2 separate regions of the Homo sapiens genome follow, and region 1 is linked to region 2. Evidence: fine-mapped expression QTL. Tissue or cell type: sun-exposed skin. Region 2 holds a variant in brackets; the other region holds the start of a gene. All regions are shown on one strand. Distances are between the middles of the regions.

Region 1 (2,682 bases), 67 kb before region 2:
TTTTAGTTTCATATTTTTTCCTGATTCATATTGCTAATATCATAACTCATTTTAAATAAATTTATCATGCTTATTTAAAAATCTTGGTCCATCTGCTCTACTGATCAGTTTCAGATGGCATATGTTATTCAGTTGTGGTCTTTTAACAGTAGTTGCACTCCTCCAGTGTCTAATTCTTTGTCCTATGAATTCATGTTCCCCTGGGGTTTCACCTACTCTGTCTGATAAACATGCATCCAGGAAGGCCCAGTGAGTTTGCAGTGGGAGGGTGGTGTGAGCCCAGAAGGAAATCGCTGGCACCAGAGAACCACTGTCTATCATTCCCAGTTTCTCCCACTTACCCAGATCTTTCCTCCAGTCAGGTTTCTACCCTTAGGGAGAAGCAGCACCTAAAGGAAGCAATTAACCTAGCAACCCTAAGGGTGGCAGGGGGAAGGGTAGAGGCTTGATTGAGAGGAGGTGGGGGGAGGTCGGCCTGCAGTTTTTTTTGTTTTTCGTTTTTTAAATTCCTCACCCCAACAGTGCTTTTGCGCTGGTCTGACACTACCTGGAAAACTATGCCACCAGTCGCTTCAGTGGACACTACCATTTCAATTGCGAAGTCAGGCAATGATTGTCCTAAGGCAAGGTGGGAGAGAAGTCAGAGTAAACCACCTCGAGAGCGCCGGTCTCCCGGAGTGTCTGGGTTCGACTCCTGCCTCCACAACTTACTGGGTCTCCTCGAACAAGTTGCATCACCAATGGCCGTGCCTCAGTTTCCCTCCTCCGTAGATTAGGAATAACAATAGCAGTGAGAACAGAATCCAGCACACAGTAAATGCTGCTTACCTGTTTGCTATGTGGAATACGCCACTACACTGTTGCTCGGCCCTCAGGAAGGGTCTGCTGAGACTTTCTACTTCCTGCTCAGGGCAGAGGCCGACCACCCGCCCAAGGTCGTGGCGGCGCCGGCTCAGCTTTAGTCGTCAAAGTGCACATCCTGGGAGCCGCTGCCTCGAGGTGGTTGAGGCGAGAGGGCAGGGAAGCGTCTGAGCCTCTTCCTCCCACCAGAGCAGGACCCCAGCTGACAGCGGGTGAGCTGGGCAGAAACCCATGCCGGGAAGAGGCGGACCCAGTGGACCGCAGCGCCCGCAGTCGCCGGGCCAGGCGCAGAGGCGAACGGGAGGCGGCGCTGCACCGTGCCCGCCCCTCCCCGGCCCGGCCCCGGCTCCAGCCCCAGCCCCAGCCCCAGCCCCGGCCCCGGCCCCGGCTCGCGGGCGCTGCGTCTCCGCGTACAGGAGGCGGCGGCGGCTCCCAGTCACCGGCCCCCGCCGGCGAGCGCACGATGCACTGCCTGGGCGCCGAGTACCTGGTAAGCGCTCGCAGCCTCGGCCCTCGGGGGAGGAGCCCCGGGGAAGGGTCGAGTCCCCCGCCTTCACGCACCTTCCCTGCCGGACGCTTCCGCCTTTCCCGCGCCTCGGGGATCCCGCCCCCGCTTAGTACCTTGGGGCCACCTGGCGGGGAGGAACCTGGACCCTGCTCCAGTGCTGGGGCGGAGGCGGGGGAGACGCGGGCCGCGGGGCGCAAACTTGGGGTCGTCCTCAGGTGCACCTCCAGGTAAGCACTTGGCGGCAGGGGGCTTAACATCCGCTCCGCGCAGAGCAGGTGTTTCAAAGGCTGTGTGAAAGAGCTTCAGGTGGCCACGTAAAAAAATAATATTAATTTTAAAAATTTAGAAAAAGATTGGTTACTTTGGCCCCTCTTCGAGTAGATTTGGGTTCGGTTTCCAGGTTGAGTCCACCTGTTTATCTTCTTTTTCTCAACTCTCCCTTTTTCTGGAAGGTTTCTGCAGAAGGAGCCCCTAGGCAAAGGGAGTGGCGACCCCAGATTTATAGGAAATGCACAGATACGGCATGGTTATTCCTGTTCTTTCTCTTTTGGACTGGTTTGGTAAGTGTGGGTGCTTGGTAGGAAAGAGGCCAGAGTGTGTGTGCACGTCTGGAAATAACTCTGTCCCAAATGTAAATCGTAGTTGGTGCTGCAGTGAGAGACTTCTGCCGTTAACCCACAATAAACATCAGTTTGTACTCGGGAGAATTCTTGTCCTAGACTCGCTAGAAAGGCTGTCTTTTTGCTACAGGCCATGTTCTAAGGGGTGACTCCATTAGGAAATGGGAATTAACAGTTTGCAATGTGATTGCTATTTAGTAAGGCCAATGTGTCTCCTTTTACTCTCCGAACTTACTGAACAGAAGTTCTTTTAGCACCTGCCACACCCCCAAATCAAATATTCCTCAAGCTTTTGGTGCACCTTTAACAAAGGAAAAGCCAGGGTAAGCCTAGAAATAAACTGCATTTCCTTTAGCTGAACATCACACACACACGCGCGCGAGAGATATGTTGTGTTTAGCAGCCAACACTGTTAACCATAGCTAACAAGGAATGATTTTTCCCACTCTAATTTCGAGGTATGTATGATTGCTGGTAAACTCCATCAGGCTATGCGGTTATAATCCTGAGAGAGTCTGTTGGAAGCCGAATCTTGCTGCTTTTATACTTATTTTAGAATTGTAGGTAACAGCAGAAAACGTCTCACCCGACATTTTCAAAGGCCACTTTCACGAAATCATCCATGCCAGGATAAGGCATGCTATTTGCTGCATGGTAAATGATTAATTTATAGAGCAGGGTAATAACTACCAG
Region 2 (2,682 bases):
AGTCCTCCTGAAACTTCCTTTCACTGCTCTTGCTCCACACTCTGCATCAGCCCCACCCACCGAGGGCTGACCCCCGACTCTTCCAGACCTGTTTCCCATTTCTCCTCTGCTGGGGCCCCCCAGTAGCCTGCTGGTATGCTCATGTCTGTGGCTCATGTTGCTGGCTCCTGCTGCTGCCTCCTACCCTGCTGGAGACAGGCAACACTGGGGCCAGCTCGTATGCCACTTCCATGAAGCCTTCCCTGATCCCTCCTGCTGGGCCCTCTCTTCCCCTCTCCCTCCAGCTTGTGGTTCTGCTCTTTGTGGCCCTCACATGTGCACTTGTGCTATGTATTTCATTGTTTTGAAGCCCTCACAGCCACACAGGGCGTCCTCATTGTGTTCTTCCCCCAGTGCTTCTCAGCCACTCGGGACAGTCCCAGGTGACCAGTCCATTAAAGTCTGAAAACTAATCCACCTGTACCTGGAGGGAGTCTTGGATCCCAAGCAAGGGAGTGAGAATTGGGACATAATATTGAGATACTACCAATGCCAACTTGGGAATCCTTCCTCGTATCTGTCTTGTGTGTTTATAGCTTCAATTTCAAGACAGAAATATCCACCCACCTGTTTTGTGATGCTAAAGAAGTATGCACACTGAATTTTGGGAATAAATCAAAAGCCGAATGCCACTACCTCCTGCTTGCTTGTTTAAAGGTTAGCCTTTAGGATCTCTTAACTTCCACAACCAATAAAACGTGTTTCCTAGTCCTTATTATGGCCAATCATTTCCACATTTTGTTAGAGTCTGCAGATTACCTTGGCACGTTAATCCTGAGTTCTGTCATCCCAGGCAAATACAAATGCTCAGAACAAGGACTTACGATGAAAATGTTAGTGCACTCCATCTTCCAGCTGCCTGACAAGCAGCTTCTACTCAGAATAAGTATAAATTAGCTAATGCTGAAGCTGCAGAAATGTTTAATCCGTATCCTGTGTCTTGAGTGATTCCTCCCTCCTCCCCCTATTCATTCAGATGTTAATTCTAGATCTCTCTGTTGCACTCAGGGTTGAATCTGGTAAAATGCTAGTGGTATGGTACCTGCAGGAAGGCATATATAATTTCTCTATCAGAGTGCTTTTAATGCCTTCTTTCAGTGGGCCTGATACATAAGAAAAGATAAATGCTTATGGGCCCCAAAACTCTTTGGAGTCAACACATGCATGAGAAAGTATAATACCTTTTTAAATTTTAATCATTTTAGCCAAAGAGCGAAATCTGTTTTTACTACTTATGAGAGATGGTGCTAAATTAAATACGAGGCAGTGATCTGCAGAAAAAGAAGTCCCCACAAAAACAGTGCTTCCCCATGGGAAGCAAGAAGCACTTTAGGAAGCTTAGAGTGGGGAAGTGATGGGGTGGTGGGCTGGAGGCAGCCTGAATGAAGAGAGGAGGCAGAGACAGAGGCTGAGCGGCAATGGTGGAGCTGCTGTAAGACGATGCTGGGGGCTGGCAGGTGGTCTAAAAAGCCCTTTCCTGGATCCCTGTGGGTGTGAGGGATTAAAGCCTACAGGTAAAGCAACTACAGGCCCCTGCCACACCTCCTCAGGTGCTTAAAGAGTTGCCTCTGTGTTCCCAGTTGTAAATGAGATCATCTT[T/G]GGTGATGTCTGGATGATAATAACCACTCTTTATTACACATTTTCTCTGTGCTTTACAGGGAGTAGGTTCTTTAATCCTCCCAACATCCCTTTGCGGTAGGTGCTGTAAGTCATTTTATAGATGAGGAAATTGAGGTCTTAGAGAGGTTAGATCATTTGCCCAAGACCAACAGCTAGTCAGTGGTAGAATTGGGATTTGAGCACAGAGACAGTCTGGCTACAGAGCCTGTGCTTACCGTAACCACCATGCTTTTAAATAGCAATTTTTCCTAATGAAAATTGATAGTGTAATGTCCAGAAGGTTAGAATTTAAAAAATTAAAATAAAACGGTCTCTGTCTCATGGATTCACCAGGGGACCTGGGGGAAATGCCCTTGATCTTGGTTTCCAGTCTATAAAAGAACAATTATGCCATTCTTCACCCACCCATCCTACAGATGTGCTTTGAGGATGAATGAATAGATTGGTCATCAGGGCTTTGAAAACCCAAGATGATTGAAGATGCCTAGTTAAATAATATGAGTAAATGAGTTTCCACATCCCTGCACAAGACTCAGGCCCCCAAACTGGAGCAGCTTTCCAGCAACAGCTGGTTTGAGATTTTCAAAGCAAATTTCACGCACATTCTATGTAAGTCCAAAACCAAAATTTCCTTGTGGAACTTTCTTTTTTTTTTTTGCAGGAAATTCATCTGACGTCTCACTGAAAATCTCTAAGGCAAGCATGGTGCCCTATCAGGGATATGGTTTCCAGCCTTTTGTCTTTTTTTTTTGAGGCGGAGTCTCGCTCTGTCACCCAGGTTGGAGTGCAGTGGTGCGATCTCGGCTCACTTCAACCTCTGCTTCCCGGGTTCAAGCGTTTCTCCTGCCTCAGCCTTCCCAGTAGCTAGGATCATAGGCATGTGCCACCACGACTGGCTATATATATATATATATACACATATATATGTATATTTTGTATTTTTAGTAAAGACAGGGTTTCACCATGTTGGTCAGGCTGGTCTTCAACTTCTGACCTCTTGATCTGCCCCAACCCCTGGCCTCC

What was found. PIP is the estimated chance that this variant, and not a neighbour inherited with it, causes the effect.
Region 1: SLC44A3 starts here. The variant in region 2 is fine-mapped to the expression of SLC44A3 in sun-exposed skin (GTEx, PIP 0.99). The same link has a PIP of 0.9 or more in unexposed skin.

What each region holds. Positions count from the first base shown.
Region 1 is chr1:94,819,128-94,821,809 of GRCh38, forward strand. It overlaps SLC44A3 (solute carrier family 44 member 3), which reads left to right and starts at 1,230. Exons shown (of 15, transcript NM_001114106.3): 1 at 1,230-1,351; 2 at 1,822-1,929. The coding sequence starts at 1,325. SLC44A3-AS1 (SLC44A3 antisense RNA 1) reads right to left here and starts at 1,105. Exons shown (of 6, transcript NR_160780.1): 1 at 829-1,105. RefSeq lists a silencer at 1,234-1,423.
Region 2 is chr1:94,886,338-94,889,019 of GRCh38, forward strand. The region is part of intron 12 of SLC44A3 (solute carrier family 44 member 3); the gene reads left to right. Among named protein-coding and RNA genes, the nearest start is that of CNN3-DT, 39 kb to the right of the region's middle. The variant T/G (reference allele first, on the strand shown) is at 1,639.